Linked DNA regions of Homo sapiens. The protein of the gene in region 1 purifies or fractionates together with the protein of each later gene. This does not show direct contact. Each region holds a gene or a part of one and is shown in the gene's direction. Other genes may lie near its edges.

Evidence for each region.
Region 2: the proteins of ZMAT3 (region 1) and CNOT6 purify together in Homo sapiens (affinity purification with western blotting, with the first as the bait; one study listed by BioGRID). This does not show direct contact.

The regions. Positions count from the first base shown.
Region 1 is NC_000003.12:179,061,476-179,065,309, reverse strand, and holds part of ZMAT3 (zinc finger matrin-type protein 3), read left to right. Parts: intron 1-3,834. UniProt on the Homo sapiens protein: Acts as a bona fide target gene of p53/TP53. May play a role in the TP53-dependent growth regulatory pathway. May contribute to TP53-mediated apoptosis by regulation of TP53 expression and translocation to the nucleus and nucleolus.
Region 2 is NC_000005.10:180,574,296-180,576,869, forward strand, and holds part of CNOT6 (CCR4-NOT transcription complex subunit 6), read left to right. Parts: 3' UTR 1-2,574. UniProt on the Homo sapiens protein: Poly(A) nuclease with 3'-5' RNase activity.

The DNA.
Region 1 (3,834 bases):
GAAAATATAAGAAAAGGGAAATACAATTTAGGTAAATTTCTCAAAAATCAGAATTTTTAAGTGGAAAGGTTGAAGGAGAACAGGATGTAATGGGACAATTTAAGCAGCTAAAAACCAGGGTAAAGATGGGAAAGAAAAGAGGCAAGCAAGTAATCAGAAAGTAGGAGCTTACAGAAAATGAAAAGTTTGGGTATAATAAAGTATATTGCTAAGACTTCAGAAGCAAAGATTCGAATGAGACTGATGTTATTGGTAACTCTTAAAGAGAGAAGGTTTTAACAGACAACTAAGGCAAAGCAGTTCATGTGTAAAAATACAGAGCAATTATGTTAGGGTAACATAGAAGAAAGGTAATCTTAGAAGTGAAATCTGGATTTCAATAAGATAGAAATGGTCAAGATGAGAGTGGATAGTGCAAAGTGTAGATCAGAATAATAAACAGAGTGTGAACATAACTCTAGAAGTGGGTGAGCTACCAAAGAAGGAAAGCGTAGAAATGTTAGCCAAAAAGATGCATCAGAGGGTGTACATGAATAAGCAGTAATAAAAGAAAGATTACTGAAGACAAGGCTAAGACCAGGCCAGGTGTGGTGCCTCACACCTGTAATTCTAGCACTTTGGGAGGCTGAGGCGGGAAGATAGTTTGCGTTCAGGAGTTCAAGACCAGCATGGACAGCATAACAAGACCCTGTCTCTACAAAAATACAAGGAAATTAGCTGGGCATAGTGGCAGACACTTGTAGTCCCAGCTACTCGTGAGGCTGAGACAGGAGGCTCACTTGAGCCTGGGAGATTGAGGCAGCAGTGAGCTATAATCATGCCACTGCACTCCAGCAAACAAAGACAACAACAAAAAACACACAAAAAAGAGAAGGATAAGACCAATGAGTAAGGCTTACCAAGCACAGGAATAAGTAGAATGCCAATGATTGTAGACTAATAAAGTGGTTTAGGATTAAATGAGATGATGGATGTAAAATTTTATTTCAAGACTAAAAACTTACTAATTTTTAATACAGAGCATTACCAAGCTGTACCTTCATTATTTCAGTTATGTGTGAGATAAAATGGGTCACGGGTAGCCTGTTTATGAGCTAGAAACACATTTGTGTGAAGTGATAAATCACTGTGATTACATTACTCAAAACTTTTTAGTCAGTTGATGCCATTGTTGAAATCGTGGAGTTTCAAATTGCCTCGGGTATTGTAAACAATGGTGGTTACACTAGAGCCGGACTGTATCATGTGCCAGTAATCCAGGACACGCAGTGGAAACTGCCCAATAAATACTTCCCTTTAAGCTCACTAGCATTTTTTCCTGACATCCCAGTGTTCCCAAGCTGGGGCTACCTTAGCAGTGACCCATGTGTATCTGTAGTCATCACAGATTTAGTTTTATTCCAAGGACTTTTAAAAACTGGTCAGTTGGCTTCAAAACATCATTAGCTATTGTTTTATTTTTAATGAAGCCATCAAATATTATATTCTTAAAATTAGGGCTTTGGATATAACTTAATTTAAAATCCAATCTTTGGAGGAGAAACATATTTTCATTTTATTAAAGTCTATCTGCAGGCTTCAGGTTACTTAGGGCAAGGCTGGCATGGGGTAACATACCACTGTTTCATCAGCATAAATGCCCAGAGGAAGAATTGCTTTAGCAGGGAAGGTTATTAACAGAAATAAAGAAAAGCAAAAAGCACGGATGAATTTTGCTAAGGCATCCACAGTTTAAAGTCACCAGTTTATTTGCTAATTTGCATGTATATATTTAAAAAGATCTACTTACTCAAAGTACATTTATAAAATTTGTCATAAACATGGCTTTCTATTTGTAATAGTTAGTGGCCAGATAGCAACCTACCATGAATTAGATTGATTAGAGAAAGAGAACACAGGTGAAAGAATAGTTTTAGAATTAGGATGCTGAGTGTAGTGGTCTTAATTCATAATTCATAATGAAGAGAATGCTATTAGATTTTTCCCAAAATTTAAAGCACTGATTTTGGCACTTACATTTTAATATTGATCACCCAGGTTTGGATCACTGAATTAAATCTCAGCTAATTTTCATGTATTCAAAATTCTCCTATCTGATTTTTTTCCAAATGGACTTGCAGTGGACTGAGAATGGCCAAAACACACTTCAGATTTGGTTTTAATGCATGTGCTTTACACGTGGCATATATGCTTTGGAATCTAACAACTTTGGGCTAGGATCTTGGCTCAGTTACTTTAGGCAAGACACTGAATCTCTCTTTATTCAATATCTGTAAAGTAGGGGTCATTGTACTTCCTCTGCAGGATTGTGAGACTTGCATATGTTATCTTAATAAATGCTGGTTGATTGAAATAGGTTGCTATTGTTTAGAAGTGTTTGGGTCTCAAATGAGCAGAATGAGATGGCACACAGCTGTCTTACTGTTGTTACTACCTTGATAGTAACTTGCTGTAGGACCTTGTGTAAATAAGCAAAACTTTGTTTTCCTTGATTGTTCTCCCGAGATAGTCTTTTAGATCCAGATACCAGGTTACCTTAAAAGATTCTCATGAAGAATAATTCAACCAACAAATGAGGCAAAATAAAATGATTTTCAAATGTAAATATGCTTTCAACCATACTACTCGTCTGTCAGCTTAGTCCATTTACCCAATAATCAATCCTTGTTGGTTTTCTTGTTCTGCTCTCTGAAATCGCCAGCTCTGTAGGCTTTTCTAGCTCTTGCTTTGATCACTTTAGAGGACAGAAGCTCTCTGTGATCCTGCCAGTTTTTTGCCTCCTCCTCTAGTCTACCCCTACCTCATTTCTTCTTATTTCGAAATGATAGATACCCTTTCTTTTGTCCAAGTTTGATTCCTCATCCTGTTTTCTGGATTTCATCACCTTTTCACCTCAATCAAAAACTATGCCCAAGTCTTTTCTATATAAATAAAAATAGCAGCAGCAACCTTCTGTTTACTTTTAATCCCTTCTATTAGCAACCTTTCTCCTCTCCTCTCCTGTCCTTAGCATTCTGCAGGTAGAATTGTTCTCTTCAGGTCTTTATTTCCCATTCATTCCTCAGCCCACTGTACTCTGATTTCCATTCCTATAGGCCGCTGAAATGGTCCTTTCCATTGTCACCATGATCTTACAGGCCAAATCTAACTCCTTCTCACTTGACCCCTTTGTAGCATTAGCCAATGGTAACAACTTTCTCCTAAAAAAATTTAAAAATATTTTTATTTAAAATAATGCCTGAGGAACCAAAGGATTTATAATGAAAAGTAGTAATCACCTGTTCTCCACCCATTCCCTACCTTTTTTTTCCTCTCCATTCTCTTCTCCTTTCTGACTCCCAACTTGAGCTGGCTATAGTTTTACTTTGACACTGTCAAGATTGATCACATTTTTATCCATTCTGTCATCAAATTAAGTTTTCCATGCTCTATTTGCAGGTTGATGCCAATTGTTGAAAATTAACATTGAGTTTTTGCATTATTGTGAATAGGGAATTTTGCACTATTATGAGTGGGGAAATATTGTTCACTGCAGAGCTGTTTCCTTCCCTGTATTTCCAGTGTCATGATCCCATGCTACTCACAAGAGATGTTCAAATAGGTAACCCTTTCCTGAATGCCACCAGTTGCTCAAAATTGTGTCTATTTTAGTTTGCTTCATATGTGGATTATAACTTTGAAATAACTTTTTGTTTTTCCTTGAGTTTCTGGTACTTAAAAAAAAAACTAGAGAGAAGAATCTTAAGCCTTTCAAAAAAGGTATTAGCATCTCAATCTTTCTTTATATTGCTTACAACCCATTTCATTTATCTTCATGAAACCCACTGTTTTCTG
Region 2 (2,574 bases), on another chromosome or scaffold:
CTTAAGAATGATTTGGACTTTCAATCTGATTATTTGATAAGGATATAGTATGAAAGCCAGGTGCTAGCAACAGACAAATTCTGAGCCCAATATGCTTTATACTGCTAGACAGGGATTGGTGTGTTTGCACCTGTCTTTCATTTGTCATAAGAGATTTTCCTATTTCTTCTACCCAATAGAATATTTTCATGCCTGGAAATAGGAAAATGTGTGAACAGCGTATTCTCTTCACACAGAAATCTGTAGCACTGCTTTTTTGAGGCCAGTAGCAACATCCAGAGATCATTCTTCCATACTTTACTCCCTCCTTTTTCAGACTTGTTTGTAAAGTACAGAATCTGAATTTAGCCTTTATGATTGTATATGATCCACAGAAGACCTGATTTATGAAATTTTGTACTAAAATCATTTGGAAATGATTGTATTGTAAACTGAGGCTAAATTTTTTTTTAAACCTGTTTCATGTGTTATAAAGGCCAGCTTGTAAAAGAAGCTGCAACAGACTTTCTCTGCTCATGATTTGCACTCTTAGGGTTTTGTTAGCCCTTTTGTACTACTTTCTTTTTAAATTGAGAACATGGTTCTTTACATATAAATCTGCTTCAACCTTAGGATGTTTTCAGACCAGAGGCAACTTATTCATGAATTTTTATGAAAACTATCTACTAGGACAGATAAGCTGAACAGTGATGATCTGTAGACATTTATGGACTGAATGTAATGGTTGATATATGTACATTCTGATATTTTTAAATCTTTAACTTTTTAAAGTTAAAAACCTACAGCTGCTTAGGTCCAGCTTCTTAACTCTTTTTGAGACACTTCCTGTCCTATCTCCACTGTGCCTGCCTAAATTTGTTCTCACCAAGCACTGCCTGTGCATGCAGAGAAAATCTGTGCATCCTCTTTTATATTTTTAAAATACTGTTTAACATTTGTGAGAATTTTATGAAAATGCTTTTGTATGAGCTGTGGCTTTTTCCCATTGTGAAGCATTGAATATCACATTTTGGAACATGTTATAGGGTGAGTCCCTGGATCTTTGCTCACCAGATCCAAGCACTGCTTCTCGGTGTCATTGCAGTGTGCTGCTTGTCACCCAGAATACTACTATCATGTGAATTCTTTTTGTCGTCAGTGTCTTTTCCTTAGTCTTTTTGTTGTTGTTGTTGTTGTTGTTTTAATCATTCCTTTTTTAAGAAGAAGTAATTTTCCATTTATGAAGCAGTATGAATTAGATGTATTTTCAAAACAGGTCCCTAAGACAATTCTTCAGATCATTTTTAAAATGACTAAGTCATTTTAGTATGTCAAGCAAGATAAAAATTACATCATACCGTCTATTTTGCCCATAGTGCCATTTAGAGATGAAAACCAGCTTTAACTTTGCAAAGTGAACATGTACATGGTCTGCTCTCATTTATTCATTCTTCTCTCAAAAGTCAAATGAATGCAGAGGGAGCTTGGTCAAACTGCTTTTGTTTCAACTGCAGGCAGGGGAGCAAAAGGACGCCATGTGAGCATTAGGAAAAAAAATACTCACTCTTACTAACAATTTTTATACAGAAAATGAGTCATTTTGGAAATGATTCTTATGTTTTTTTTTTTTCTCCTTTTAGAAAATTCTCCAAAAGGTTTTGATGTTGAATCTTGGTCTTGGACCTGTTTTTTCCTTTGAGGGTTTTTTGTTTTTTGTTTTTTCTAGGATTTCATTGTGATGTTTTGGTTTTGTTTTTTGCTTTTTGTTTAAGTTGTGCTGACACCAAACACATCCAGTTTATAATCAGTACATTGGAAAGCTGGTATTGATGTAGAACCAGTGCATAACTTTTTATGGGGTTTTGTTATTGGTTTTTTTTTGTAAAGTGTGAATAAAAGGTATGTTTACTCATTTTTCCTGAACACTGTGTTGGTAATGTGCATCATGACAATTTCCAGTGAAGGTGAGCTGGAGCTGGTTGGACTAATGAGACTGAGGAAGCAGCTTTTCCTACGATCTGCATTATGTAATCACAGGTCCAGAGAGCTTTATGGAAGCGGGAGAGGAGGAGCACTTACTCATGTTGTATTTGTTAATGGAGGATGTCATCTTTTCATAGATGCTGGAACTAGAGTGCACTTGTTAGATGCTAAAGGTTTGAGCTTTACACAAAATGTCTTCATCTGTATTTGTTATTGTCTACAATATATTTGAATTTGGGGCAGCATATTAAGATGTAATGGCCTGTTATGTCTTGAAAATACTTGTTTTGCCTCTTCCAGGCATACTGCATTCTGTGGATCAGTTTGAACAGCTTCTCCACCTTATTTGGACAGTGATAAATTGAACCAAGAGTGTAGATTTACAAGTGTAACCTTCAAAAGAGGAAGAACTATTTGGGGTCTGTAGGTAATGAACAGTCACACCAAAATAGACTATGATGCTTTTGTTAAGAAAGGTTTCATGTTTTAGATATTTTCCGTGTCCTAAATAATTTTCAATAATCTATAATCCCTAAAATGCAATAAAAACTAGTATGTTTTCACGGTGTATATTTTTTTTCAAAAATTCTGTAACAAATATATTTAATGTGT